Linked DNA regions of Homo sapiens. The protein of the gene in region 4 purifies or fractionates together with the protein of the main gene of each other region. This does not show direct contact. Each region holds a gene or a part of one and is shown on either strand. Other genes may lie near its edges. The genes, in order: ADISSP, TOX4, RPAP2, PPP1CC, PLCL2, DNAAF10 and KIFBP.

Region 1 (4,681 bases), on a different chromosome or scaffold from region 4:
CATCCTGGCCAACAGAGTGAAACCCCGTCTCTACTAAAAATATAAAAAATTAGCTGAGAGTGGTGGCACGCGCCTGTAATCCCAGCTACTCTGGAGGCTGAGGCAGGAGAATTGCTTGAACCTGGGAGCTGGAGGTTGCAGTGAGCTGAGATGGCGCCACTGTACTCCAGCCTGGAGACAGCAAGACTCCGTCTCAAAAAGAAAAAAAAAAGCTGAAATAACACACATCAGAATATTAACCATGGTTATTTTGGGATAGTATGACTGTGGGTACTTTTAAATTTCTTCATATTTTCTCTGTCTTCCAAATTTTCTCATGTCTATTAAGACATGAGTGGATTTTGCAATGAGGGGAGAGAGCTATTTTTAAGTGTTGGTTTGTTCCATTTACTCTCTTGGGGAAGCTGTCAGCTGTAGGACAAAGAGTGGGAACTTCAGAGTTGGACAGAAATGGATACAAACCTGGGCCCCCCAGGTTCTTTTTTGTTTGTTTGTTTGAGACAGAGTCTTTCTGTTGCCCAGGCTGGAGTGCAGTGGCACAATCTCAGCTCACTGCAACCTCAGCCTCCTGGGTTCAAGCAATTCTTCTGCCTCAGCCTCCCAAGTAGCTGGGACTACAGGCGTGCGCCACCACGCTCAGCTAACTTTTGTATTTTTAGTAGAGACGGGTTTCGACCCATTGGCCAGGCTAAACCTGGGCCCCTTTTGAGCAGCGCAGCAGACCCCCCACTCAGGGCCATCTCAATGGGCCAGACCTCCCCCGACCCAAGGGCACTCCTGTTCAACTCTGGACCCCTGATTTATTGACCAACCTGAAGGCCTCAGTCTCCATTTTCCCCAATCCAGCTCCACCAAGCAGAAAACAGGGGGTGATAATACTACTTCAAAGAGCCTAACTGAGCCAGAGATTTGGCAAAGAAGGGTTAAAAAAAAAGTTGCACCTTGTTATTGCCATAGTTAGCTTCACACCTGTATCACATACATACATTCTTCCATTCTCACACCAACTCTAGGGGATGTGATTGTCTCCACTTGAGAGAAAAGAAACTCAGGTGACCTTCCCAAGGTCACAGAGCCAGAATGGCTGGCCTAGACCTGAACTCAGGCCACTGGCACCACAGCCACGACACTGCCTTCCATTGCTATTGTCTGGGTGAAGCAGATGACAGCAGTGGCTCTGCTCATCTTGATCTGGATGACATTCTAAATGCTCTCATCTCATTGAAATCTCACTGCCTCCCATCTGACAGATGGGGCAACCAAGGCACAGGGAAAGGCACAGACATGCCTATAAGCCCGGCTGAGAGGAACGGGGATAGGCACCCAGAAGCCAGGCAGAGCCGGGGAGGGGAAGAAGCTGCTGATGGGGTAGGTGTGCATGTACCTTGACCAGAAAGCTGCTGTCACTCTCCTGGGTGACCATGACCACCGAGTCATGCAGCTTCTCATCAAAGTGGACGTGGCTGTGGGATCCTTCTGCATCGTGGCCTGCCGCAAAGCGGATACTCCGGACTCTGGGCTTGTTGCCTAGGAAGAGTGGGAGAGGGCTCTGAGGGCTTTCCCTGTCCCCAGGAAACTCCTCCCCCTTGTCCCCTCGTCACCCCCAAGACTGCCCTTGACATCATCCAGCTCCCACTGGCTGGGCTCTTTTCAGGGCTAGATGGACACTAGGATCATGAGGCTTGAGGCCTCCCCGCCGGCCCCGACCTGCCCCTCCCACAAAAATCCATCCCCTGAGAGTGAGCGTGGGGGGACTCAGGGACTGGCTAATATGACCCTTGCTTGGAGGGGGTGGGGCTGGTGCCAGAGCCAGGAAGGGACAGTCTTCCAGACTCCCACCAAGCCAGGGCAGCGTGGGACTCAGCCCAGTCCTCTGGATACCCTGCCCAGTGCTCTCCTTCACAGTGCAAAGCTCCCCATCCCTGGGGCCTACCCCTAAGCTGTGTCAGTGCATGAGGCCCCTGCCTGCCCATCCTCATGACCCAAACCTGAAAGGGCAGGGACAGGAACAGGCTCTGGGGGATCTGCCTGGGGTGGCAGAAACAGGGGGGATCAAAAAACACACTCAGGCCACCTGGGCGAGGCTGCAGCTGCCAGTAAACCTCACTGGCCCCTGGCAGCAAGAAGAGAGAATCCAAGGAAGCTTCCAGACCCACCTCAAGACCCCCTTCCTTCCTCTGTCTAGCCCACCATCAAGGCCCTCAGCTGTCTCTGAGCTGGGTCGGGTTCTCCAAGGCCAGAAAGGGCAGACGGATGAGACAGGCAGGGTAGGCGGGAGCCGAGCTGAAGGCCTGGACTGGATGAATGCTCAGGCTGTAGAGGCCGAGAGCACGGCCCTAGTCCTCTCTGACCCCTGGCCCCTAGGCCCTCCCACCAAGAGCCCTGCCCAGGGTCCTCTTGGCGGGAGGACCTGATCCAGCTTTGAGCCGGCCTCTTGGATACTCGGAGGCCCAGGGGACCAGCCTGGCACATCCACAATCCCTGGTGAGCCCCACAGAACCCTCAAATCTCACCAGATCACCCTGGCCTAAAACCCTCCCTTATCCCTTCTGGACTCTGAAAGAAACCCAAACTCCCTTCCACAGCCTGCTGTGGCCCTCCCACATCACCAGTCTCAGTGCTCACCATAAGCCCCTCGGCTCCCCCAACCCCCACAGTGGAACGGCAGGGACACAAGAGCACACACCTCCACAGACCAGCCTAAGGAGTCAGCAGGGCTCTGCAGGGGTCCTGCTAGGGCTTGCGTGAGCCCCAGAACCTGGCACAAACACTGACATAGTCCCAATCACATTCGCACACCAGCACACACGCACTCACACATGCACACACACACACACAGGTGGTGCGGGCCCTACCTGCAGCAATGGCCCTCCTACCAGGGCCCACCGGAAGAGCTTGTGCAAGTCCTACCACGCCAGGAAGGCACTTACCCTTGTTGGCTGCAGCCATGGACGCCCTCCCTGCCACGCAGCTCCTGCCAGACACCGCCACTCACGCTCAGCAGCCTCCCATGCTCCAGGGACACCAGCGGGAGCCTGAAGGATAGGGAGTGGGGAGGGCAGGGGTCAGGGCCACTCATGGACCCATGGCTCAGGGACACCAGAGGAGCTCCCTTTAGGAAGGACTCAAACCCCTACCGCTCTCAGCAGCCCAAGTGGTGCCTGTACTCTCTAGCACGGGGGCTTCTGCCCACCCTCTACCGACTGCCCACATTCACCAAGAGCCCTCACCCCTTCCTGATACCCCAGTGACTCAGGGTCCTGCCAGCATGTGCTGAGCTGCAGCTTCTAGGTGCCAAAGCAACAGCATAGGACTCCTATCCCCAGCACCCCCAGAGACTGGCAGGAGGGGCAGCCTGGAAAGGAGGACTTTATTGGTATTTTCCAGGGACCAGTTCTGGTGCTGCTGACCCCAAAGGCTGGGCCTGGAGCTACCTTATTCAGGTCACACAAGCAATGCAGCTGGGTGCGGTCAGAGGCAACAGGGTGCTCGATGGTGGGCAAGAACAGGGGACCACATAAAGTAAGCGTGCCCTTAGAGCTTTCCCTCCTGGTGATCGGTCAGGGCCATATGCAAAACAGATGCCTGTGGAGGGGGTGTGCCCCCACCTGAACCCCATTCAGACCCTGCCCTGAGTCTCAGGCCTGCCTCCGCCTCAGCTCCCCAACGGCAGCCTCAGCACAGGGGCAGTGAGAGGCGCCCCAGGAAGCCTCCAATGGGCCGAGCTGGGACCATCTGAGCATCAAAAAGAATAATGAGTGCAACTGATGGAAACAGATGGAACACATAAAAGCAGTGCATTCACAGAGATTATTAGAAAAGAAGAGAGAAAGCAAAACAAACAAACCCAAGCCCTCAAAAGCCCTCATTTGTCACCACTGACGGTAGCAGTGCCCTCTTTACTCTGAAAGCTGAGGATTAAAGAGGAAGAATTCAGCCTGTCTCTTGGCCTTTCTTGTAACCAAATTGCCCTGGTGGTTGATGGAAAGCTCTTCTTTCGGAAAGAATTCTTGCTAATAAATAACAAAGAAATGACCAAATGCTAAGTCATTCTGCAACCCCTAAAGGAACAAATGCTGGAGGCAACAAGAACCAGTGGATGCTAAACCAGAGGGGAAGGTTGACAGGAAGCAGATACTCACAGGCGCCCAAGCGTCACTGACAGAGGACCTGGTATGGTTTTTGTTTTTTTTTTTTTTCTGAGACGGAGTTTCACTCTTGTCACCCAGGCTGGGATGCAATGGCACGATCTCGGCTAACTGCAACATCTGCCTCCTGGGTTCGAGCGACTCTCCCACCTCAGCATCCCGAGTAGCTGGGACTACAGGCGCCCGCCACCACGCCTAGCTAATTTTTGTATTTTTAGTAGAGACAGGGTTTCACCATGTTGGCCAGGCTGGTCTCGAACTCCTGACCTCAAGCAATCCGCTCACTTCGGCCTCCCAAAGTGTTGGGATTACAGGTGTGAGCCACCATGCCTGGCCGAGGACCTGGTGTTTAAGAGGAATGGCACAAGTTTGCAATGGAGGTATGTGACTTCTCCCAGTCACACACTGGTCTATCTCTCTACTCTCTGCAGGACAGCCTGTCACACTGATGCCTCCTGAAGTAAGGCAGCCCAAAGTCACAGCATCACTGACAAGGGATTCCTGCCAAAAAGGTTTAACCTGGAATCTAAACC
Region 2 (3,919 bases), on a different chromosome or scaffold from region 4:
TCCTCCACTCCAGGCCATGCAACAGCCTCCACCTCAGAAAGTTCGAATCAATTTACAGCAACAGCCTCCTCCTCTGCAGATCAAGAGTGTGCCTCTACCCACTTTGAAAATGCAGACTACCTTAGTCCCACCAACTGTGGAAAGTAGTCCTGAGCGGCCTATGAACAACAGCCCTGAGGCCCATACAGTGGAGGCACCTTCTCCTGAGACTATCTGTGAGATGATCACAGATGTAGTTCCTGAGGTGAGCCTTTGTTTTTAAGTCTTTAGTCTAGTGGAAATGTATAAAAATGTTTTTGGTTGACCCAATAACAGTGGGGGTTGCTACTAGCATTTAATGCCCAGCAACCAGGAGCACAAAACATCCTGCAGATGGGAGTTCCTTGCAGCAGTTGACTTCTCTTACCCAAGGTACTCATACTGTTTTTTTTTTGTTTGTTTGTTTTTGAGATGGAGTTTCACTCATTGCCCAGGCTGGAGTGCAATGGTGCGATCTCGGCTCACTGCAACCTCTACCTCCTGGGTTCAAGAGATTCTCCTGCCTCAGCCTCCCGAGTGGCTGGGATTACAGGCATGTGCCACCATGTCCGGCTAATTTTGTATTTTTAGTAGAGACGGTTTCTCCATGTTGGTCAGGCTGGTCTCGAACTCCTGATCTCAGGTGATCTGCCTGCCTCGGCCTCCCAAAGTGCTGGGATTACAGGTGTGAGCCACTGCACCCGCCCTGTTTTGTTTTGTTTTGTTTTGTTTTTCTTGAGACGGAGTCTCGCTCTGTTGCCTGGGCTGGAGTGCAGTGGTGTAATCTTGGCTCACTGCAATCTCCACCTCCTAGTTCAAGTGATTCTCCTGCCTCAGCCTCCCGAGTAGCTGGGATTACAGGCGCCCACCACTACACCCAGCTAATTTTTTGTATTTTTATTAGAGACAGAGTTTCACCATGTTCATTGGGCTGGTCTTGAACTCCTGACCTCGTGATTCGCCCGCTTCGGCCTCCCAGAGTGCAGGGATTACAGGCGTGAGCCACCGTGTGCCCCATAGTGTTTTTAGTGAGATACATTAAGACAGTCTTCTGCCCCAGACCACTCCTTAACTAAGCAGAGGTCACTAGTTCAACTGGACAGGATATAGCCTAAACAGTTATTATTCAGAGTTGTTACCCAAGGATCCTAAACTTTGGACATGCAAAGCTTTTCATTTCTCCTAGGTCTTAAGTTCCTTAGCTTGATGTTTTAAATGTGTGTGGGGCAGGGGGTATAGGCAGAAAAATTTAATTGGTTCATACCGTTATTTTTTAAAACAGACATAAATATGGCCAGGTGTGGTGGCTCACGCCTGTAATCCCAGCACTTTGGGAGGCCAAGGCAGGTGGATCACCTGAGGTCAGGAGTTCAGGACCAGCCTGGCCAACATGGTGAAACCCTGTTTCTACTAACAATACAAAAAATTAGCTGGGGCTGGAAGCGGTGGCTCACGCCTGTAATCCCAGCACTTTGGGAGGCCGAGGTGGGCGGATCACGAGGTCAGGAGATCGAGACCATCCTGGCTAACACGGTGAAAACCCGTCTCTACTAAAAAATACAAAAAAAATTAGCCGGGCATGGTGGCAGGCGCCTGTAGTCCCAGCTACTCTGGAGGCTGAGGCAGGAGAATGGCGGGAACCCAGGAGGCAGAGCTTGCAGTGAGCTGAAATCGCACCACTGCACTCTAGCCTGGGAGACAGAGAGAGACTCCGTCTCAAAAAAAAAAAAAAAAAAAATTAGCTGGGCACGGTGATGGGCGCCTGTAATCCCAGCTACTTGGGAGGCTGAGGCAGGAGAATCGCTTGAACCCGGGAGGCAGAGGTTGCAGTGAGCTGAGATTGTGCCACAGCACTCCAGCCTGGGCAACAGAGCAAGACTCCGTCTCAAAAAAAAACAAAAAACACTACCTCTCTATTCCCACTGCTTGACTAGCCAGGCTTAACAGGGAAAAAAAAGCATTAGCACATGGCCACCTTTCTCCTGATGGGAAGAATCTTCCACCATTCTGCTTGGCAAAGTTCTGAAGCTGGACTATAGAGGGGAGACCAAGAACTCACCTTCTTCTGCAGTTTTGCCCCCCAGTGTGAGGAATTCTAATACCTGTTGCTTCATTGGTTTCTACAGATAATTTAGCTAACTAGCTAGCTAGGCAGGGAGCAATCTAATCCACCTTGGTACTCTTCTTCTTCTCACAGGTTGAGTCTCCTTCTCAGATGGATGTTGAATTGGTGAGTGGGTCTCCTGTGGCACTCTCACCCCAGCCTCGATGTGTGAGGTCTGGTTGTGAGAACCCTCCCATTGTGAGTAAGGACTGGGACAATGAATACTGCAGCAATGAGTGTGTGGTGAAGCACTGCAGGTGAGCTTACAGTTCTCCCTTTTATAATTCAGCTACTGGTCAATTCTACTGGGAAACATAGGAATCTTGAGCATAAAATCAGCATCTCAGTGTCACCTTACCTTAGGTAGAGTAGGTTGCTGTATCTGGTCTACTAGAAAAGCTCCCCTGCTTAAGAGCTTACATTTGCCACATAAGCCAAAGATGATGTAATCAGCAGTTCACATTTTTCAGTTACCACATACCTCTCTTATGTATGCTCTTTAAAAATATAATACATTAAGCTGTTAGTGTTTGCAAATATTAGCTTTTCAATTCTTGGTGCAAATCAGACTACTTAGGGAACTAGAATTTGGGGAGAAATGGTAAGTGGAAAGTAACACATAATAATTTGCAATTTGTGAAGGAAATGGGGAGATGGTTGGAATATTTTACCCCTCTCCCCAAATTTTCCTGGGAATTTCCTATAGCTGTAGGACAAGGCATTTCTATTTCCTATTTCAAAAACTCTGCAGTAAATTAGCATTGCCTCTACTTCTGACTTTTAAGCCCACTGTTCTTATATTTTCAAGGTGATACTATCTCACCATAATGCTGTAGGAAATTATCTGGGAACCTATTTGTTTAAGACAGATAAAAAATCCAGCTGGGCCATACAGTGAAACCCCATCTCTACTAAAAATACAAAAATTAGCCGGGCATGGTGGCAGGCACCTGTAGTCCTGGCTACTCAGGAGGCTGAAGCAGGAGAATCTCTTGAACCTGGGAGGTGGAGGTTGCAGTGAGCCAAGAAGATCACGCCACTGCACTCCAGCCTGGGCAACAGCGAGACTCCATCTCAAAAAAAAAAAAAAAAAGATAAAAAGAATGTAGCGGCCGGGCGCGGTGGCTCACGCTTGTAATCCCAGCACTTTGGGAGGCCAAAGCGGGCGATTCACGGGGTCAGGAGATCAAGACCATCCTGGCTAACACAGTGAAACCCTGTCCCCACTAAAAATACAAAAAATTGGCCGGGCATGGTGGTGGGCACCTGTAGTCCCAGCTACTCGGGAGGCTAAGGCAGGAGAATGGCGTGAACCCATGAGGTCCGTCTCAAAAAAAAAAATGTATCTAGGCTGTAATTCTATTTCAGTTTGTGTATAATTCTGTTTGTGTATGTCTTTTTCTCTCTTAGGGATGTATTCTTGGCCTGGGTAGCCTCTAGAAATTCAAACACAGTGGTGTTTGTGAAATAGTCCTTCCTGTTCTCCAAGCCAGTGAAGAGTTATCTGCTGGGAAAGTGTCCAAGAGCCTGTTTTTGAAACACAAGCTGGGCTTCTGGTAGTGCCTCATCACAACCCATGATGGCTGTTCATGTTTCACCCCTTTTCTTCCTTCAGCAGAGGCCAGGCTATGGAGCAGGGCCACTGAATTTGCTGTAATCTGGAGATGCTTTTTACTTTCAACCATAAGCGGTAATAGCAGAGGAAAGGGTGAAGGGAGTCTGGGCAAGCAAAGCATAGAGATGGTGGGGTGGTGGTGGGGTTGAAGAAACTTGTTGGTATAATTGTCATAGGACTTG
Region 3 (4,681 bases), on a different chromosome or scaffold from region 4:
GCTGTAGTTCATTCTTTTATTGCTGTATAGTATTCCATTATATAAATATACCATTTATTTATGCTAATGGACATTTAGACTATTTCCAATTTGGGGCTATTATGAACAATATTCTTAGGAACTTTCTCGTATTTATCTCTCTGCTAATATGCGTATGTATTTCTGAAGTATCTAGGACTGGGAATGGTGGGTTATCGTATATGCATATATGCAACTATACTAGATAATGCCAAACAGTTTTCCAAAGTGGTTGTACCGGTTTACAGTTCCACTACTACTATATGGGAGTTTCCTTGATTCCATGTCCTCCCTGGTACTTGATATAGTTAGTTTTAGCCATTCTGGTAGTATTGGTTTATGATTATAATACATTACTGTGATGATGAATAAATTCAGCACTATTTTATTTGCTTATTGACCACTTGGATAATCTCTTAGGTCAGGTCTGCAGATCTCTCAGCCATGGATACCAGCACCTGCTCTGGTGGAGATGGCAGGGGGGTGAAATGGATTCTGTGAGGATCCTTGCTTTTGGTTGTTTAATGTACTATTTTTGTGCTGGTTAGCCTCCTGCCAGAAGGTGGCACTTTCAAGAGAGCATCAGTTGTGGTAGTATAGGGAGGATCAGGCTGTGGGTAGGGCCGTAGAACTCCCAAGAATATATGCCCTTTGTCTTCAGCTACCGGAGTGGGTAGGGAAGGACCGTCATGGGGGCAGGGCTATGTGCGTCTGAACTCAAGACTCCTTGGGCAGGGCTTGCTGTGGCTGTTGTGGGGGATGGGAGTGTGGTTCCCAGGTCAGTGGAGCTATTCCAGGAAGATTATGGCTGCCTCTGCTGTGTCATGCAGGTTGTCAGGGAAGTGGGGGAAAGCTGGTGGCAGGCCTCACCCAGCTCCCATGCAACCCAAAAGACCAGTTTCACTCCCACCATGTCCCTTCAAACAGCACCAAGTTTGTTTACAGGCAGTGGGCAGGAAGGGCTGAGAACTTGCCCCAGGCTACCAGCCTCTCACCTGTGAGAACAAGTAGGGCTTTCACATCTCCCAGCCTGTGGAGTCTGCACACCAGATTCACACCCTCCCTTGAGTTCTGGCCAGGAGACTTCCTGTTCATTTGGAATTGTTACAAAGTTCAGCTGGCCTATCATATGGTCTATCTCGGAGACTGTTCCATGTGCTGATGAATAGAATGTATATCCTGCTGTTGTTGGGTAGAATGTTCTGTAAATATCTGTTAAATCCATTTGTTCTAGGGTATAATCAAAATTATATCAAATATTCTCTCAGACCACAGTGGAATTTTTTAATTTCTACTTAGATTTCATTGTTGACCTAGTGATCATTCAGGAACAGGTCTTGATGACCTGTCTAGTGCTGTCAGTGGAGTACTGAAGTCCCCCACTATTATTGTGTTGCTTTCTATCTCATTTCCTAGGTCTCGTAGTAACTGTTTTATAAATTTGGGAGCTCCAGGTTTAGATGCATATTTATTTAGGATTGTCATATTTTCCTATTGGACTAGTCCTTTTATCATTGTATAATGTCCCTCTTTGTCTTTTTAAACTGCTGTTGCTTTAAAGTTTGTTTTGTCTGATATAAGAATAGCTACTTCTCACTTTTGGTGTCCATTTGCATGGAATATGTTTTTCCACCCTTTACCTTAAGTTTATGTGAATCCTTATGTGTCAGGTGAGTCCCTTGAAAAGCAGATACTTGGTTGGTGAATTCGTATTAATTTTGCCATTCTGTATTTTTTAAGTGGAGCATTTAGGCCATTTACATTCAATGTTAGTATTGAGATGTGAGGTACTATTCTATTCATCGTGCTATTTGTTGCCTGAACAGCTTTTTTTTTTTCATTGTCTTATTGTTTTATAGGTCCTGTGAGATTTATGCTTTAAAGAGATTCTATTTTGGTATTATTTCCAGGATTTGTTTCAAGATTTATCGCTCCTTTAGCAGTTCTTGTAGTGCTGACTTGGTAGTGGTGAATTCTCTCAGAATTTGTTTGTCTGAAAAAGACTATCTTTCCTTCATTTATGAACCTTAGTTTCGCTGGATACAAAATTCTTGGCTGACAGTTGTTTTGTTTAAGGAGGCTAAAGATAGGACTCCAATGTCTTCTAGCTTATAGGGTTTCTGCTGAGAAATCTGCTGTTAATCTGATAGGCTTTCCTTTATAAGTTATCTGATGCTTTTGCCTCACTGCTCTTAAGATTCTTTCCTTCATCTTGACTTTCGATAACCTGATGACTATGTGCCGGGGCAATGATCTTTTTATGATGAGTTTCCCAGGTGTTCTTTGAGCTTCTTGTATTTGGATGTGTAGGTCTCTAGCAAGGCTGGAGAAGTTTTCCTTGATTATTCCCTCAAATATGTTTTCCAAACTTTTAGATTTCTCTTCTTTCTCAGGAACACCAATTATTCTTAGGTTTGTTTGTTTGACATAATCCCAAACTTCTTGGAGCCTTTGTTCATTTTTTAAATTCTTTTTTCTTTGTTGGACTGGGTTAATTCAAAAGCCTTGTCTTGAAGCTCTGAAGTTCTTCTACTTGCTCAATTTTATTGCTGAGACTTTCCAGTGCATTTGCATTTCTCTAAGTATGTCCTTCATTTCCCAAAGTTGTGATAGTTTTTTATTTATGCTATCTATTTCACTGGAGATTTTTCCATTCATATCCTGTATGATTTGTTTGATTTCTTTAAGTTGGGCCTCACCTTTCTCTGGTGCCTCCTTGATTAGCTTAATAATTGACCTTCTGAATCCTTTTTCTGGCAATTCTGAGATTTTGTCTTGGTTTGGATCCATTGCTGGTGAGCTAGTATGATGTTTTGGGTTGTTAAAGATCCTTGTTTTGTCATATTACTAGAATTGTTTTTCTGGTTCCTTCTCATTTGGGTAGACTGTGAGAAGGAAGATCTGGGACTCAAGGGCTGCTGTTTAGATTCTTTTGTCCCACAGGGTGCTCCCTTGATTTGGTGCTCTCCTCCTTCCCCTAGGGATGGGGCTTCCTGAGAGCCAAACTGCAGTGATTGTTATTGTTCTTGTGGATCTAGCCACCCAGCAGAGCTACCAGGCTTCTGGCGGGTACTAGGGAGTGTCTGCAAAGGGTCCTGTGATGTGATCCGTCTTCAGCTGTGGATACCAGCACCTGCTCCAGTGGAGGTACAGGGGAGTGAAGTGGACTCTGTGAGGGTCCTTAATTGTATTTTTTTTAAGTGCGCTGGTTTTGTGTTGGTTGGCCTTCAGCCAGGAGGTGGTGCTTTCAAGAGTGCATCAGCTGCAGTAGGATAGGGAGGATACAAGCTTGCTCTGGGGTCAGGCAGTGGGTAGGGCCATAGAGCTCCCAAGAGATTAAGTCCTTTGTCTTCGGCTACCAGGGCCAGTAGAGAAAGACCATCAGGTGGGGGTACCATTGTGTGATTCCCAGGCCAATGGAGTTATGTTCCCAGGTGGATTATGGCTGACTCTGCTGCATCACACAGGTCACTAGGGAAGTGGGGGAAAGCTGGCAACCACAGGCCTCACCCAGCTTCCACACAGCCTGCAGCCTAAAAGGCCAGACTCACTCCCACCGTGCCCCCACAACAGCACCAAGTTTATTTCCAGGCAGCTGATGAGCAGGGCTGAGAACTTGCCCCAGGCTACAGGCCTCCCAGCTGAGAAAGCAAGCTGACTCACAGTTCCTTGCCTTTTCTGGTATGTTTCTGCGGTAGTTCTTGGAGCAAAAGTTCATGATGGGAGTCTCCACATGCCGCTCTGTCTGACCAAGTGGGAACTGCAAGTTAGTCCTGCCTCCTATCTGCTATTTTTTCCCAGACCTAACATTTATTTTTAATATTAAACCAACTTTGCATTCTTATAATAAACTCAACTTGATTGAGCTATAATAGCCTTTTTATATAATACTGGATTTGGTCCTCCTAATATTTGCCTTAGAATTTTTGCACATATTTTCAGAATGAGTGACATTAGCGTATGAATTGGTCATGGTCTCATCATAAATCACATGGTACAAATTAAGTAATCTGAGGAAAGTTTAATTATAGGACTGTTTTCCAAAGCGTGAAAATGTGGTCAGAATGAAGGAAACCAAAGGAATGATACACTAATCATAGTTTGAGAGCCCTCACCACCCCTAGACCTCAAGGAAAAAGGTAGGAGTGGACCACAAGGTCTTGTACCAAGGAAGTGCTGCTTGTAGTGGACCAAGTGGGAATGACTCTTCTGCACCGTCCAGTTTCTTATTCTTCATTGGCAAAACTGAGATAAAAGCCAGAGAGCAAGGAAGCCCATTGATGCAGCCCATACAGATCAGCCTTCTGAAGTACAAAGACAGGTGGAAAAGGGTGAAAATTGTTCAGAATGAAGATACCTTGCACTGCCTATAATTTTCCTTTCTTGTAATATCGTTATCAGGTTTTGGTTGTAATCATTTGGTAAAACAAGTTGGGAAATGTTCCCTCCATTTCTGGAAGAATGTGTCTAAAATTAATGTTAGTTCTTTAAATGTTTAGAAGATCACTCATTGAACTATCTTTTCCTCTGATTTTCTTTGTGGGTTGTCAATTTTTTTTTTTTTTTTTTTTTTTTTTTGAGATGGAATCTTCTCTGTTGCCCAGTCTGGAGTGCAATGGTGCCATCTTGGCTCACTGCAAACTCCACCTCCTGGGTTCGAGCG
Region 4 (4,681 bases):
TCAGAACATGGAAGTCTTTCTGCTGGTGACTTTGCAGAGAAACTTAAAGGGTTCTTTTTTCTTTTCTTTTCTTTTTTTTTTTTTTTTTTTTTTTTGAGTCTTTCTTTGTCACCCAGGCTGGAGTGCAGTGGCAGGATCTCGGCCCACTGCTGCCTCCACCACCCAGGTTCAAGCGATTTCTCCTGCCTCAGCCTCAGTTGTTGAGTAGCTGGGACTACAGGCATGTACCACCATGCCCTGCTAATTTTTGTATTTTTGGTAGAGATGGGGTTTTACCATGTTGGCCAGGCTGGTCTCAAACTCCTGACCTCAGCTGATCCACCCACCTTGGCCTCCCAAAGTGCTGGGATTACAGGCGTTAGACACCGCATCCGGCCCAAAGGATTCTTGATAACATTTTTGTGGTTTATACTTTTTGCAGAAAAGAACTCAGTCGTTTATGGGAATGCTTAATGTTGGAAGTATTTACTGTTTTTTGTTTTGGTTTGAGTCTTATTTTCCTAAATCTGTCAAATATCATGAGGCTATTGATTTCACTGAAATGAATATGATGTGGCATATTGTTAAAATTATCACCTACTTTTTAACAGGATTATTTTAAAACAGCAAAATCTTCGTTGGCTTATTTTTATACCACTTGTGCCTTTCTTAGGTTCTGAAACTTCATTAGAATTCAGCTAGGGCTTTTTTAGTATATGCTATTTCTTTAATATGTTTTTATTTAAACAATTAAGGGGCCTTTATGTGGCAAGGAAAATACTTTTTTATTCCTTATAAATAATCTCAAACTTGTCTTAAATTTCCTTCCATAGTTTCCATCTTTGCTTTGCTTTTTGCCAGCAGCTAACTTTCAAAAGTTAGTATTGCTTATGAGAAAGAGCTGGTGTTGTAAATAATCACCAATGCTATTTTATTTATTTATATTTTTTGAGACAGGATCTCACTCTGTGGCCCAGGCTGGAGTGCAGTGGCATGATCTCGGCTCAATGCAGCATCTGTCTCCCGGGCTCAAGTGATCCTCCCATCTTAGCCTCCCGAGTAGCTGGGACTACAGGCGCACGCCACCATGTCCAGCTATATTTTGTATTTTTGGTAGAGACTCAATTTCACCATGTTGCCCAGGCTAGTCTCTAACTCCTGAGCTCAAGTGATCCTCCCACCTCGGCCTCCCAAAGTGCTGGGATTATAGGCCCAAGCCACCACATCTGGCTGCTATTCTTTTATAATTCAAATTTTTACCAGTTTGTTTTCAATAAAAATGTGTGGAAGTTTTTATTATTGCTCGTGTCAGTGATTTGCCAGAAAAATAGATCAGATACATTTCTACAGAGCAACCTTCGCTTTTAACAGTAATAATACGTTTTCCTGAATCTCCCTTTCTAGCCAGATAAAGAAATATTAATACTTCTACTGAAAAGTCACATCCTTAGGTCTAAGTTGGTGTTGCTTTTTTGTTGTTGTTTGTTTGTTTGTTTTGAGACGGAGTTTGTTTGTTTGTTTGTTTGTTTTGAGACAAAGTCTTATTCTTGTTCCCCAGGCTGGAGTGTGATGATGCGATCTGGGCTCACTGCAACCTGCCCCGTGGGTTCCAGCGATTCTCCTGCCTCAGCCTCCCGAGTAGCTGGGATTACAGGTGCCTGCCACCACGCCTGGCTAATTTTTGTATTTTTAGTAGAGACGGGGTTTCACCATGTTGGCCAGGCTGGTCTCGAACTCCTTACCTCAGGTGATCCGCCCGCTTCGGACTCCTAAAGTGCTGGGATTACTGGCATGAGCCACCGTGCCTGGCCGAGACGGAGTTTCTTTCTTGTTGCCCAGGATGGAGTGCAGTGGCACAATCTCGGCTCACTGCAACTTCCACCTCCCAGGTTCAAGTGATTCTCGTGCCTCAGCCTCCTGTGTAGCTGGGGTTACAGGCGTGCACCACCATGCCCAGCAAATTTTTGTATTTTTAGTAGAGATGGGGTTTCACCATGTTGGCCAGGCTGGTCTCGAACTCCTAACCTCAGGTCATCCACCCATCTCGGCCTCCCAAAGTGTTGGGATTACAGGCATGAGCCACCGTGCCCAACCTTCTCCTTTGGTTTTGAAGTTCAATGTAGAACAGATTCTTAATTGGGAATTAAGAATGCACCACTAGATGTAGCATCGCGGCCTCGTGTCCTTAAGCTCTGTGACCTTGGACTAAGTCACTGTAAAATGGGAGATGACAGTGCCTGACTTCCTAGGATCGTTGACAGGATTGAATGGCAATATAAAGCCCTTAGTACAGTGCCTAGTGGATAAGTGCTCAGTAAATGTTAACTACAACGAGTAAATAATTCTGTTTGATGGACATTGAAAATAGTGAAGTGGGCCAGGCACGGTGGCGCACGCCTATAATCCCAGCTACTTGGGAGGCTGAGGCAGGAGAATCACTTGAACCCAGGAGGTGGAGGTTGCAGTGAGCCACGATCGCATCACTGCACTCCAGCCTGGCAACAGAGTGAGACTCCATCTCAAAAAAAGAAAGAAAAAAATAGTGAAGTGAATTTGTATGCTTTTGGCTGATATGGCAACTTTTTTTTTTTTTTTTTTTTTCTTGAGATGGAGTCTCACTCTGTCGCCCAGGCTGGAGTGCAGTTGCACGATCTCAGCTCACTGCAACCTCCACCTCCCGGGTTCAAGCGATTCTTCTGCCTCAGCCTCCGCAGTAACCAGCCACCACGCCCAGCCTGATATGACAACTTTTAAGAACTCTCCAGTGTTCACTTGGACTGCCAAGCCCCATTTGAAATCTCTGTTAGACAATTCAACGTGAAATTTAAGAGTAATTCTAGATTTTCATACTTTGAAAAATACTCCAGTAAAGCCTGGTAAGCAAGTGGCCCTATTGTTTTATAATTTTATAGTGCAGAAACAGGCTTTTTGCTCATCAAAAGTATATAGTCTGGGCTGGGCACGGTGGCTCACACCTGTAATCCTGGCACTTTGGGCGCCGAGGCAGTGGATCACCTGAGGTCGGGAGTTCGAGACCAGCCTGACCAATATGGAGAAACCCCATCTGTACTAAAAGTATAAAATTAGCTGGATGTGGTGGCGCATGCCTGTAATCCCAGGTACTCGGGAGGCTGAGGCAGGATAATTGCTTGAACCCGGGAGACGGAGGTTGCAGTGAGCCGAGATCGTGCCATTGCACTCCAGCCTGGGCAACAAGAGTGAAACTCCGTCTCTAAATAAATAAATATATAGTCTGGAATATATGTTTAATTCTAATGCCACCAGTCAACACTACTTAAAGACTTATCCAGATTTCAGTCATGCAACAAATTTTGAGCACCTGCTGTGTGCTGGCTATGGCTGGTGTACACTACAGAGCAGGACTGCTGCTGTGGGTTTACATTCTACCAGTGGGTCCAGATGAGCCGGCAGAAGCAAACTGGCAAGTATAAAACAAATACAAGCATGGTTGAGGGGGTGTGGTGGGTAGTGACCTGATGTTGAGAGAGCCTTTCAAAAAGCATGCAGCAAGCTTGTGAGGGGAGAGGAGATGGATGAGAGAAGCTTTTCTCCAGGGTGAAGTGTGGTATCTGAGCAGAGGCCTGAAGTCTGAGCAGTTGTATGATAACTGATGGAAGATGGTTTTGGCAGTTTCTATCTTTATATAACTTTTTTCTTTCTGCTAATTTTAGGGAATTTAAGAAGCTTTCAGACCATGTTTGTTGATGTTTTTCATAAGCACCATTCTTTAAATACAAATCTTTATTTTCTCTGGAAAAGCTGCATCTAATCTTAATATTAAGAGTAATTTTTAAGGCCAGGTGCAGTGGCTCATGCCTGTAATCCCGGCACTTGGGGGGCCAGAGCAAGAGGATCACTTGAGCCTGGAAGGTTGAGGCTGCAGTAAGCCATGATCATGCCACTGCACTCCAGCCTGGGCACCAGGCTTCTTCAAAAAAGAAGAATTTTTAAATTGTTGTTAGTATTGCTTTTGCTTTTTACTGATCTCTGAATGTCCCCACCCAGAGGACAAACAGAAACAGAATAAAGGAGTTAAAACAAATATAAACTATGTTCAAAGGTGACAGTGGAGAGCGTCCAAAGCCAAAAAAAAAAATTGTTAGCAACATTGATTTCATCTGATGGCATTGACTAACTGCAATAGCATTCATAAAACAAAGCTTGCCATTATATGGTATGAGCTATTTATCGCAGAAATACTCTCCTAGAAGACTTAGAGTCAGCTATTCATTCATAAGTGTGGGACTCTGCTGAAAAAAATTCACGTTGAAACCAGAAGCTTCTAGGATTTCCTTCCTAGCCAAAAATAAAGCTTCCTGCTGGGCAGTCTGCCCAAGTTTTTGGTTAACTTATGGTGAAATCACTAATGATTGGCATTTTCTGGCCAATGAAGTGGGGATCCCATCTTTCACCGGGAGTATTTCCTGAGTTCTAACTCTGTATGTGTGTCTAGAGAGAAAAAAAATTACTTACGAAAAAAACATTTTTGTTGCTCAGTTGCTGTTTTATTAAATATGCATCTGTTTCATATCTTTCCTCGAAGACTATTATTACTATGCTTTTATTGCTTCTTGTTGTATAATATTTTTATCAGAACGAGACTTAGTTACATATTTTGGGGTCCAAAAGTGAACTTTATAACTGTAAAATTAAGGTACATTTAGCAGTTCCGTGCTACTTT
Region 5 (5,131 bases), on a different chromosome or scaffold from region 4:
TCTATTTTGGCAGAAAATATTGTTTTACAACAATTTCTTACTCAACACCACATTTACAAAACAGATGGAGTACCAAATAAATTATTTTAAATGAGGAATAAGATTCGGGTCAGCCTACAGTGTATTTCTGCATATGCCCTGCACTTTAGCAATAGTCCCCCTTTCTTTGCCCACCTTATAGCACATTTAGGCCATTATTCTCCCTCTGATTTAAGGATCTCCAACAAAGAGGGCTGTCAAGACTGTAATGAAGATGAAAGCTAGGAGAGAGGCACAGTTCAGAAGCCCAGCATTTCAACTAATACAACCCCATAAATACCGGCCTCAGTTCCCCAGGTAGCATTCACTCCCTGCTATTCCCTCAAGTCCCCAATTATCACCTTGCTTACTAATCTACTCCTGCCTCTACTCAGAGACCACCTGACTGCATTCATCCCTTATATTAAAAAAAATAAGGAAACCAAGGAAAGATGTCACTATTGCTTTTTCACATGGGCTTCTGCTTTAGCTTTTTATTCTTTTTTTTTTTAAACAAAAGTGAAACATAATTTCTGCCATTCACATGACAAAACTATCTGTGCAGTATTTGTTGCTTTATGAAATTTGATGTTAAAGACTTTGTTTTCTATTAGGATATTGTCCTGATGCTGGAAGTTATCTTTAGAAAATACCACAATACATTCCAAAAATCTTGATGCTTCAAGGCACCAATTCAAAGGGAAATATACCAAGTAGTTACCTATTTAAATATAGCATCCTCTCTTTCCTATAACCCAGTATTGATCAACTTTCAACACTACTTCCATAATTTTCGAAAGTTTTAAGAAAATGCAAAGTGAAAACAGAGGCAAGAAAAAGGAGTATGTCAAGCCTTCTTTGGAGGTACAATACAATGAACAAAATATGGGACTGGTAAATCCAAAACCAATTGTTTTATAAATTAACAGAACTCAGAGAAAACATGTACTTTCTCCATTCATTCAATAAGCAATTTATTGAGCTGCTACTACATTCCTGGCACTTTATATCTAGGGTTACACTGGTGAACAAGAAGCCAAATGCTTTCTTTACAAAGAAGAAAAATGACAAAATATCCTTAAAAGTTTCAGAATTCAACATAAGTATCAATATCATTTCTAAAATCAGTGATTTTTGAACATTAATCATTTCCCCCATGTGCTTCTAGAGCCTTCAATTAAGAAATGGTATCTATTGACAAGTTCCCAATTCCATATATCAGAAATACTAACAAATCATCCTTCTTGCTTATCGCCCAGTAATGTAAAATTAAAACAAATGTTTTTGTAATTCAGTAAGTTACACTATGAATCTCACTATGGACACTAATAAAGTTTGATTTTTTAATGCAAAAACAAGTATTCAAAACAATTAAAAGAAAGGGGTTAAAATTAGGTAGGCTGGTATCTTCTTTGGAATTTTCACCTCAAATTTTATTAACACCACAATGCAAAATCACCACAAATATTTTATGACAAATAAAAACAGAAATGTCACCTAACTCTGTCAATAGGATTGATTATCATGCACAGTTGAAAGCAACTTCCATGGAAACATAAGCTACAGAGTAAAAGAAAACGTAAGTCACTAAAAGCTATGTATGCAGCAAAAAGACACTTTACTTTCCTTAGTTTATCTCTACGTGTGTGCTGCAGGTAGTTAATACACTTCATCTCCAAACCCTTCAAATTGTGTCCTTGCCCAGACATAAACTGCGCAAACAGATGACAAAGGGAAATGCAGTTTCACAATTGCCTCTTACATAGAGTAGCAAGATGGTATATTTCACTAGATTACTGCATAAGTTGATAACACCATCAGACATTTTCACAGTACTTGGAAGATTTCTGTAGGTCCAATAAAATTTCAGATACCACCACTGCCAACTCTCTTTACTGTGGCACGTTCTGCCCTCCCACCAGTTATCAGCCACAGGAAGGGTGGGTGCAGCCTGTCAATTTGCTTTGCTGCTCCCTGTCCTGATAACTCCTTGATTTTCAGAAAGCAATGTTTTCATTTGCTCCAAACTTGAGCGAGCCGAATGAGCTGGTCTTGCCTAAGGCTCTGCTCTTCTTAGCTCATCAACTATTTTTTTTTGCACTTCATGTCATGAAAAATATTTTTACATTGCGAACCAAAATGTAACATTAGAATGAAACTAACACAAACTCGGGAGTTCCTAATATTACTTCTTGAGTTTAAAATGCTCAAAACAATCGCTGGCTTTCTTCCGCTAACACTGTGCAAGCAAAACCAAGCAAACTGCCCAAAAGAACTTCCACAGTACTCGAGGCCTGCCTACTGCAGCAAGGAAAAAGATTAAATCGTGTGGAACTGTAATCTCTGAGCTTTTGAGCCTAAGAAAGCGGAAATCTGCATTTATGTTCAGAAATCTACTCTATTTTTCTTTGTGACTGAGTGACCGGATATTAGGAGATTTTGCACCCTCGAAGTGTAAACATTTGTAAGAGCCAACTAACTGTATACGGATCAGAAGAACCCTATTAAATAATCTCTGTTCACCCTCTGTTCGCCGCCTGGGATTTTTAAGAAAATGTTCTCACATTTCACATAATCCCTATCTGTGTTTAAGATACAATAGAAATCTTACAGGGAGTCTGTTAACCAGACTAGGCTACACATAAGAGTATGCCCTACCCCGGCAGGTACAAGGCCCTAATGCCAGACCAATCCTGGAAGAGGTGACAGCCCCAAGTTCAACTGAGGATGTCTGAGCACAGCTCCCCCTGCACATTAGGGATCACCTCTCCATTCTTTCCACATGCCATTTGCATCCAATCCCCGCTCAACCACCCCAAGCACCCATGCTCCAGTGGTTCCTGTTAGCAGTGGGCTTCCTCCTTCCACCACCACTCCCCCAGGGAGAAAATAGAATCCAAGGACGGCTGAGGGTGGGCGATGAGCGCCCTTCTCCCACCTACCTTGATGATGCTGCTCCGGCGGGGCAGGCCGCCCGGCTTGCTCTCCCGGGGGAGGGTACAGACGACCGCGCTGGGGGTCGGGGCGAGCGCAACGCCGCGGGGTCCCCTGGTAGGGCTAGCCCGGGCTTCGTCCCCGGACACGCCGAGGCTGCAGTCTCCGTTGGAAACCCCGCCGCTGTCATAGCGCGCCCGCCCGTGGCCGAGGCGACCTCCCCCGCCACCGCCTTCCCCCACTCCGGCTTTCAGGGCGCCCTTGGCGCCGAGGGCCGGGCCCGGGGAGGTGGGCAGGGCCCCGCCGGCGGCGCCCCCCCGGCCGCACTCCGCCATGGGCGCCCCGCGACCCGCCTGCACAAAGCCGCGTCCTCGCGTCCCCGCGTCCCCGCCGCCGCCTCGGGCCGCCGCGCGCGGCCCCTCCTCCTCTCCTCCCGCCGCCGCCTCGGCCGCTTCTTCCGCTTTTTTTTTTTTTTAATTTAGATGTGATGTTTGTTTCGAGCTCTCGCCTTGCGCACGGTTAAAGTCGCGGCGGCAGAATTATCGGAAGATTCCTGCAGGGGAAAGAAGAGAGAGACGAGTCAGCTCCGGCGCCGGCGGAGCCCCGGCTCTCGGCACCTGGGGAAGGAAAACACGCCCCAACACACGCGCCTCTGCGGGCGCCAAAAATAACCCGCGCGGGCCGGGCGCCCACCCCGGGGCAACCCGCGCCCACCTCAGGGGCCCCAGGCACCCACCCCGAGGTAACGGGGCGCCCACGTCAGGGGCTCGGGGCGCGCTTCCCCGGGGCTCAGAGCAACTGGGGTCGGAGCACCCGCCACGCAGGAAAAGGCGCCCACCTCCGGCGAAGGGCGAGGGGAAGTGGCGGCCGCCCCGACACTCTCTGGACACGCGGAGGCGGCTCCCGAGGATCTCCCGGCCCCGGGCGGGCGGGGGGCGACGCGTGGGTCTCTCCGGACCCTAACTCCCCAGAGGCTGCCGCGTGCCGAGCTCTGTCACGTCCCCTCAGAGCCCCGTTAAGGCCCGCGGCGCCGAGAGGAAGCCCACGGCGGGCAGGGGCGGCCGGGTATGACAATCGCCGTGCGGCCCCGGGGCAGCTCCCGGAGGGGGCAGCCCAGACCCACCCCACCCGCCGGCTGCTGTCTCCTCCCGAGCTCGGCGCTGCCCCCTACAGGCCGCGTGGTCCCTCCTCGGTCGCCCCCTGACCCACCATGAGCCGCCTAGCTCCCTGTCGAGATTGCCGCCGTCGCGGCTGCTGTCACCGAGGCCGGGTCATCGGGCCGCGGGGACCTCAAAGCCGAGTGGACGGGAGCCCCAAGTCATTGCCTATCCTTCGCCTCCCCAGAGCTGCTGCAACTGTCAGTCACCCACCCGGAACCCCGAGGGGCAACTACCAAGTAGGCCTCGGGGCCCGGAACAAGGGTCCCGGGGCTCAGGATCTCGGCCGCTGCGCCTCACTCCTGCCCCAGCCCCGCGCACGGAACTCGTTTCCTTCCCACCCAGTTCGGGACACTCCTCTCTGACTTCCCCAGTAGGTCAGACTCATTTCATACACTGGGACCAATTCCTTTCCCTTGGGCTCCTGATTGATTCAACTAGTTGGAAGGATGCTGAGGCAGGGGTGAAGGCTGGGGTGGCTGGCAGGCTATGAGGGGCAGAGGACATCAGCAGAGCCTATTTCGTGCCCTCTGAGTCTCCACACACAGATTTATCATTGAGACCTTCCCGATTCCCCTACCAGGGATGCCGGCTGGCCCTGCCGGCCTGCGGGGCCCAGCCTAAGTCAGGCTCATCTTTTGGGACAGGATCTCACTTGCAGCGCTACAGCCAGTCCCTCTTCTGGTTCTCACGCACCCACTTAAGGCGGAGTGACTGGCCTAAAAGTCCAAGCTGATCGTGTGGCTTCCGTTCGTAAATATCTCCCCTGGATCTCCCTCCCTGGAGCCAGACAAGACTCAAAACTCCGAAGGGTGAGACCCCAGACCTTCCACCGCCACCCCACGCCCCAGGCCTGGGCCCACCCACCTCTCCATCCCAGGCTCCGTGGGCTCCAGCTTCCTACCCTCTCTGGCACCCCAGCCCTTCCCCAACTCGTGTGCTTTCATTTCCAGGAATGCAGTCCCCGCAGGGCGCAAAGGAGAAACTAATAGTCCAGAGGCGGGGTGAACTTAAAGACCTGG
Region 6 (4,681 bases), on a different chromosome or scaffold from region 4:
CTTGGCCTCCCAAAGTGCTGGGATTACAGGCATAAGCCACCGCGCCTGGCTGGAAAAAAATTTTTATGGGAAAAGTTAAAAGATAAATGATTGTTGGAGTGCTTTCACATTATCTGACCATTTTAAAGCTGTTTTACTTAGTATAAAAGAGCCTCCTGAGTAATACTGGTGAGACTACCAATAATAAGTATTCTCTGTTTTCAGGTGTGTAGCTTGGAGTTTGACAGAAAAGACATAAGTATGAATAAGTTAGTAGCCACATCTCTGGAAGGAAAGTTCCATGTTTTTGACATGAGAACACAGCATCCAACCAAAGGTTTTGCCTCTGTTTCAGAAAAGGTAAATATGAGGGAAATGTCTTTCTATGAAGAAGAATGATAGCTTGGTTTAGACTGATAAGTAGAATTAGTCACCAAGGTTTCTTCCAGGTCTTTATGTGAAGGGAGCTATTTTTGATATATTCCTGTGAGATCTTGACAAGTTTTTCTGTGCAAAGAGTACTTCCCCAAAGTTTATCAACTTTAGACTTCTTGATTATAATAAAGATCTCAGGTAGGAATCTTATTTTGTAGTTTAGGAGCAATTAGAAGAAACCTAGCTGATATTAGGAATTTGATCAACAAAACCCAGCCTGGTGTTTCCTAATAAGTATATAATATTTGTGCTAATACCTGGTTATATATTTTTCAAAATAAACTATATGTACATGATGTCATTTCATTACACTTTGTTTTATATTCCAGTTTGCTATATTAAATGAAATTATTTGAATCACTGAGTACTGTGATTATAGTAAATGTTCAAAAATATTTACTTACTTAACTTTGCCTTGCATTTGAGGTAGCTGAGAGGGAAATGCGGTATTATGGCGTTAGACCAATAGATGAGGAAAGCAGGGCAAAGGGAAAATACTGGTTTAAAAAAAAGATAGTTTCTGGACTGGGGGGATTACAGAAAATTCATGCAGAAAGGTCCTGTCATTCACAAGAAATGGATTGGAAATGTGATTTGAACTTCCTCAAGTATAAAAAGAAAGAAAGATCAGTTACAGATTCCTTGTTTCCATAAGATTAAAATATACAAGTTGCTCAGGAAGTGAGAACTTACTCCGTTGCTTCTCTCTCTCCTGTGGATTCAGTAGGATTTCTTGAACCTTTCTATTTTGTCTCATTATTATTATTGTGTGTAAATTATTGTCACTTCCTTATGAAAACCAAATTCTTAACAAGATAGCTATAAATTATAATATTGGTTTGCTTTTGTCATTTCAGAATATATTAAGTATCTATCAACAACATAAATCACTTTACTAAACTGTTCCATGTATAATTTGCAACACATATTTCATTATCTATACATAATAGTGTCATCTCTGGTTTTTTGTTTTGTTTGTTTGGCTTTTTTTTTTTTTTTTTTTCTGGAGACAGAATCTTGCCCTCTTACCCAGGCTGGTGTGCAGTGGCATGATTATGGCTCACTGCAGTCTCAAACTCCTGGGCTCAAGTGATCCTCCTGCCTCAGCCTCCCAAGTAGCTGGGAGTACAGGCACACGCCACCATATCTGGCTAATTAGATTTTTTTTTTTTCATAGAGTCAGAGTCTTGCTGTGTTGCCCAGTCTGGACTTGAAACCTGACCTCAAGTGATCCTCCTGCCTCAGCCTCCCAAAGTGCTGGGATTATGGGCGTGAGCCACTATACCTGGCCCAGTTTTTTAAAATTATATTTAGTTAATCCAGTAATTGCTAAATCTGCCAAATAGAAGACTCTGGTGTATTTTAAGAGGTCATTTCCCCTCTTGCTTTTTGTGTTTTTCTCAACTTCCTGAAGAAGAAGAGAAGTTTAAGCTACAAAATAAAATGTTTCGACAGCTTGAACCTAATCACTGAGAGACTGTTACACACTCAAAATGTGTGTTTTGAGATATGAGTCTTTATCTGCTAATGGTAATTCTCTCAAAAGACTATTGAAATCAAAGGTCAAGACTAATCACTCACTAAAATGTGGTGTACCACGATAGCCAGCCCCACTGCTTCTACAAAGCAGCAGTCATTCATTCCCTCCCGCCTCCTTTCTCTCTCTCCCTCTGTCTCTCTCTCTCTCCTAAGTTCCCCCCAGTTAATGCAGTGGCGCCGGGATGGATTTACTGGCTGCTTTTGAGGTGCTAACAACCTGTTAACCTTCCAGTTGCTGGTTTTTAATCTTTTAGTCTAATGTGAATGATAAAGACCTTAGCTTATTATGACCATAAACATTGTCTGTAAGTCCTCATGGTCCTTATTTTGAAGACTGGACAGGTAAATGGCAATAAATTGAAAATAAGGCTCTGGGAGCTGTTAGTTAAATTTCGGTCTATAAATTTTAGTTAAAATTCAGTCTATGTACTTATTGCTGAGTTTTGCTGTGAACCTCAAACTGCTCTCAGAACTAAAGTGTATTTTTTTAATTCAGTCCACATTTTTCGTATATATAAACAAAAGTATATGTTTTTATATTTTGAGTGTTTTCCCCCTCAGAATGAACTAGAGGTATTTAAATATGTAAAATCTATTTTCATAAGTATTTGATACTATAAACTTAAATGGATTTTAATACCTGTCTTTTTAAAAATCCAGTAGAACTTTGTTTCATAAAGCAATAAAGAAAAATGATGCTTTTTCTAATTTCTTATGTGTTCCTATAAATCTCTATAGCCATTATAAAGAGATGTGCCAGAAAATAACCTTAATTACTTTTATAACCATTGAAATTATAGTTGTAAGAGTTTTTTATTTGCAGCGTTTCTCTTCCAGGGCACCATTTAGCATATAAACCAGTTGTATGCCTCTTGTTCTATTTAGGCTCATAAATCTACTGTGTGGCAGGTCCGACACCTGCCGCAGAACAGGGAGCTCTTTCTGACAGCTGGAGGCGCCGGCGGCCTTCACCTCTGGAAGTAGTAAGTCTGCCAGTGCACACTGCTCCTTTTAAAGTTACCTGTGGGTGTAAAGTAGGATTAGATTGAACTTTTTTTTCTTTTTTTTCCTGCTTTGACTTAGTTCATTTTGATATGATTTAAAATTTCATGGTGTTACATAACTTGTTTTCTAAGCATTTTGTATGAATATACTTTACACTTAGTAGAGTGTACACTAATCTTCTTTTGATACATTTTAGTATATCATTTTAGTTGTGTCTTCTAAGTATGAAAAAGTTGGCCCAAGACTTTTATCAGATACTATCTTGAAGTGATTAGAACACTCACTGCCTCTAAAAGATGGGGAAAGGGTTCCTTGCCTAAATTTAGATAACATCATTGTGATAGACCCCAACAGAGCCTGAGGCTGCTGATTGGTCTCCAGGAAAGATCTTATCACTGAATTTGCTTTCTGCATATCTAGGCAGGGTGAGTTACAATGAAAGCTTTTACTATGCACACCACTTTCTGAATCCCAAGGGCGCTAACATCACAGATACTAGATCATTTAAAAGGTCTGATATCATTGCTCAGGGTTGGCCTGTGAAAAGGAAACAAAACAAAACAAAACAAAAATTAAAGGTCTGATAAAAATTGTGAGTTAATGGTATTTCTGAATACTTTATTAGCTAAGCAATATGTACTTGGAGGGGAAAAATTATATCTTTCTTAAACATCACTCAGGGAAAAAACAGCAAGCCCATAAATGAAGGATATTTCAAAAATAAAGTTTCATTAATAATGTAAGAAGAAAAACACCATCCTCAATATATCTGGGACTTTCACATTTATAAAATTCTTCTCTATTAGCTCCTTTGAGAAGCTGGAAGGGGTTCTGAAAAACAGGGCTACAGTTGGAAAGTACTTGTTAAAGTACTGTGTGCAGGGATACCGCTGACAAAAAGCAGATCGAATGCTTTATCTTATATTTTCTGACAAAGTCTTGCTCTGTCACCCAGGCTGGAGTGCAGTGGCATGATCTCGTCTCACCGCAGACTCCACCTCCAGGTTCAAGGGGTTCTCCTGCCTCAGCCTCCCGAGTAACTAGGATTACAGGTGCCCGCCACGACGCCTGGCTAATTTTTGTATTTTTAGTAGAGACGGGGTTTCACCATGTTGGCCAGGCTGATCTCGAACTCCTGACCTCAGGTGATTCACCTGCCTCGGCCTCCCACAGTATTGGAATTATGGGTGTGAGCCACTGCACCCAGCCAGAGTGAACACTTTAGATCGAAGCAGTATGATTATGGCAAAACCGGGTCTCTACTAAAAATACAAGAACTAGCCGGGCGTGGTGGCACACGTCCCAGCTACTTAGGAGGCTGAGGCACGAGAATTGCCTGAATCTGGGAGGTGGAGGTCTCAGTGAGTCGAGATCGCACCACTGCACTCCAACCTGGGTGACAGAGTGAGACAGAGCGACAGAGACTTTTTCTGTCTCAACAAACAAACAAACAAACAAACAACCAATATGGTTTCTGAGTGAAAAGCAGAGGAAAAGTTTGAGTCGTTCTGGGAGAATGTGGGGTAGAGAGATCACTTGCTACTTTCCCTTCTTCTAGCACCTCTGCCTGTTGTTCTTCCCTGATTCTTCCATCCCGGTCTCCTCCCCACGTTAGACTCTGCCAGTCCCCTTAGTGAAGCCATGTGGTGGCACATCACTATTTTACTTGGTGACCAAACTCTTTAGGCTGCTCGCTTGAAGAACTAGTCCCAGTTTTCTTTGT
Region 7 (2,340 bases), on a different chromosome or scaffold from region 4:
GAATCACTTGAGCCCAGGAGGCAGAAGTTGCAGTGAGCCAAGACTGCACCACTGCACTCCAGCCTGGGTAACAAAACAAAAGAACTACCTGAGACTGGGTAATTTATGAAGAAAAGAGGTTAATTGACTCACAGTTCCTCAGGCTTAACAGGAAGCATGACTAGGAGCCCTCAGGAAACTTAGAATCATGGCGGAAGGCGAAAGAGAAGCAAGCATGTCTTACCATGGCAAGCAGGAGAGAGAGAGAGGGCAAAGGGGGAAATGCCACACACTTCAAAACCATCAGATCTCATGAGAGAGCTCACTCATTACCACAAGAACAGCAAGGAGGAAATCTGCCCCCAGTGATCCAGTCACCTCCCACCAGGTCCCTCCTCCAATTTAATGTGAGATTTGGCCAGGGACACAAATCCAAACCATATCAGTGGTAAATAATATAGAACCTTGTGAAACTACTAAACGAAAGAAAACCAAACAAACAAACCTCAACACATCAGAAGCATAGGTCTTGAAAAGATGAAGATAATTTTAGAGGTCAGAGGGTAAAGAGGAGGCATATTAAGGAAAGACAGGAAGTAGGGAGAATAACTGTGGGGCTTTATGTGTAGAGAATTTGGAGCCAGGAAGAGCTGTCAAGTTTATTCTGGTCAGGTAAAGAAAGCTGGAAAAGGAGGGTTGCAGGGACTATTGGAGCAAAACAGTAGGCTAATTTAAATAAGCATCCTAGAGAGAACATGTAAGTAAACAAGCAGCCCAAGAAGGAAGGAAGTATACAAGATTTAGAGACTTATGATCTACATTTGAAGTAATTGTGTCAAGCAAATCGCACTATGATTTGACCCTTACCTTTCATTTAGTTGATGTTTCTAGTCTGGGAACTTAAAACTTCATCACTTGGTTAGTTTAAACTCACATATTTGCCATGCTACTAAACTACTCAGATTTTCCTTAAACCCAGTTTTGTTTTTTGAGATGGGGTTTCTGTCACCCGGGCTGGAGTGCAGTGGCATGATCTCCACTCACTGCATCCTCCACCTCCCTGGCTCAAGCAGTCCTCCTACATCAGCCTGCCAAGTAACTGGGACAACAGGTGTGTGCCACTGTGCCCGGCTAATTCTTTGTATTTTTGTTAGAGACGATGTTTTACCATGTTGCCCAGGCTGGTCTTGAACTCTTGAGCTCAAGCGATCCACCCACGTCGGCCTCCCAAAGTGCTGGGATTACAGGTGTGAGCCACTGCGCTCACCCCTGACTTTATTTTTTAACCTTAACTTCATCCTTTATCATCTGTATATTTATCTGAAAGACCTTCTTCAGTTCAAGCTTTAAGACATACATAAATTTATTCAATTAAGTATTTATTTATGCCAACCCTGTGCTAGTCATTGGCCAAGGATACTATGATGAACAAAAATGAACCTAGCCTTTAACTTCATGTAAAAGTACAATTTTGCTAAGTTCCACAAAGGAGAGACACATGATATGAGAAGGCACAATAGGAGGAAATAACAAGCAAGCTCTGGGGATGAGTAAGTAGGAGTTACCTAGACTGAAGAAAAGAAGGCACACCATGTCAAGGAGCTGAAGCAACATGTTTAGAAGTTCTGTGGCGTAAGGGAGGATGATATCAGAAGGGATGGAGCAAAGGCTGTGAGGTTGGAGCTGAGGGAGAGGGAGTGTGATATAAGCTAAAGTTAGAGTTAGAAAGGGGCTGGAGCAATCAAGGCTTTGAAGCATTGTTGTCTTCATCTTCTGAGCATTTGGAAACCTTGAAGGGTTTGTGGAAAGATCATTGGTGAGACAGTGTCAAGTGAAAAGAAGAAAAGGCCTTGGGATCTATTATTTATTTTTATTGGCCAAGAAGAGCTTACCCTATTTCTTAACCACCTTAGTTATTCTTTCTTTTTTTATTTGCCCCCCCCCACCCCCAAGAGGTAGAGGAGATAAAACTTTAACTAGGAAGGTAGATTTAACTCTTTGTTCACTTTGATGTCTTTAAGAGACCTAGAGCATTTCTGTCTGATATATTTCACTAAATAACTAATAGCATAAACATGGTAGCATTAATCTTAATGGCATCCTTGTGAAACATTTTTATGATGTAGATTACAGTCTTTTTGTTTGTTTGTTTGTTTCTTGAGATGGAGTCTTGCACTGTCACCCAGGCTGGAGTGCTGTGGCGCAATCTCCACTTACTGCAACCTCTGCCTCCTGGGTTCAAGCGATTCTCCTGCCTCAGCCTCTCAAGTAGCTGGGATTACAGGCGCCTGCCACCATGCCTGGCTAATTTTTTATATTTTTAGTAGAGACAGAGTTTCACTATGTTGGCCAGGCTGGTCT

What was found.
Region 1: the proteins of PPP1CC (region 4) and ADISSP purify together in Homo sapiens (affinity purification with mass spectrometry; 7 studies listed by BioGRID and IntAct, with this or other methods). This does not show direct contact.
Region 2: the proteins of PPP1CC (region 4) and TOX4 purify together in Homo sapiens (affinity purification with mass spectrometry; 4 studies listed by BioGRID and IntAct, with this or other methods). This does not show direct contact.
Region 3: the proteins of PPP1CC (region 4) and RPAP2 purify together in Homo sapiens (affinity purification with mass spectrometry; 4 studies listed by BioGRID and IntAct, with this or other methods). This does not show direct contact.
Region 5: the proteins of PPP1CC (region 4) and PLCL2 purify together in Homo sapiens (affinity purification with mass spectrometry; 5 studies listed by BioGRID and IntAct, with this or other methods). This does not show direct contact.
Region 6: the proteins of PPP1CC (region 4) and DNAAF10 purify together in Homo sapiens (affinity purification with mass spectrometry; 9 studies listed by BioGRID and IntAct, with this or other methods). This does not show direct contact.
Region 7: the proteins of PPP1CC (region 4) and KIFBP purify together in Homo sapiens (affinity purification with mass spectrometry; 5 studies listed by BioGRID and IntAct, with this or other methods). This does not show direct contact.

The regions. Positions count from the first base shown.
Region 1 is NC_000020.11:3,757,152-3,761,832, forward strand, and holds part of ADISSP (adipose-secreted signaling protein), read right to left. Parts: intron 3,036-4,681; 5' UTR 2,950-3,035; coding exon 2,931-2,949; coding exon of another isoform or gene 2,856-2,930; intron 1,528-2,855; coding exon 1,385-1,527; intron 1-1,384. UniProt on the Homo sapiens protein: Adipocyte-secreted protein (adipokine) that acts as a key regulator for white adipose tissue (WAT) thermogenesis and glucose homeostasis at least in part through activation of protein kinase A (PKA).
Region 2 is NC_000014.9:21,493,014-21,496,932, forward strand, and holds part of TOX4 (TOX high mobility group box family member 4), read left to right. Parts: coding exon 1-244; intron 245-2,215; coding exon 2,216-2,379; intron 2,380-3,532; coding exon 3,533-3,593; 3' UTR 3,594-3,919. UniProt on the Homo sapiens protein: Transcription factor that modulates cell fate reprogramming from the somatic state to the pluripotent and neuronal fate. In liver, controls the expression of hormone-regulated gluconeogenic genes such as G6PC1 and PCK1.
Region 3 is NC_000001.11:92,325,871-92,330,551, forward strand, and holds part of RPAP2 (putative RNA polymerase II subunit B1 CTD phosphatase RPAP2), read left to right. Parts: intron 1-4,681.
Region 4 is NC_000012.12:110,732,892-110,737,572, reverse strand, and holds part of PPP1CC (serine/threonine-protein phosphatase PP1-gamma catalytic subunit), read left to right. Parts: intron 1-4,681. UniProt on the Homo sapiens protein: Protein phosphatase that associates with over 200 regulatory proteins to form highly specific holoenzymes which dephosphorylate hundreds of biological targets.
Region 5 is NC_000003.12:16,883,196-16,888,326, reverse strand, and holds the start of PLCL2 (inactive phospholipase C-like protein 2), read right to left. Parts: upstream 3,373-5,131; 5' UTR 3,288-3,372; coding exon 2,961-3,287; intron 1-2,960. UniProt on the Homo sapiens protein: May play an role in the regulation of Ins(1,4,5)P3 around the endoplasmic reticulum.
Region 6 is NC_000002.12:68,132,957-68,137,637, reverse strand, and holds part of DNAAF10 (dynein axonemal assembly factor 10), read left to right. Parts: intron 1-204; coding exon 205-339; intron 340-2,838; coding exon 2,839-2,936; coding exon of another isoform or gene 2,937-2,937; exon of another isoform or gene 2,938-3,554; intron 3,555-4,681. UniProt on the Homo sapiens protein: Key assembly factor specifically required for the stability of axonemal dynein heavy chains in cytoplasm.
Region 7 is NC_000010.11:69,012,803-69,015,142, forward strand, and holds part of KIFBP (KIF-binding protein), read left to right. Parts: intron 1-2,340. UniProt on the Homo sapiens protein: Activator of KIF1B plus-end-directed microtubule motor activity. Required for organization of axonal microtubules, and axonal outgrowth and maintenance during peripheral and central nervous system development.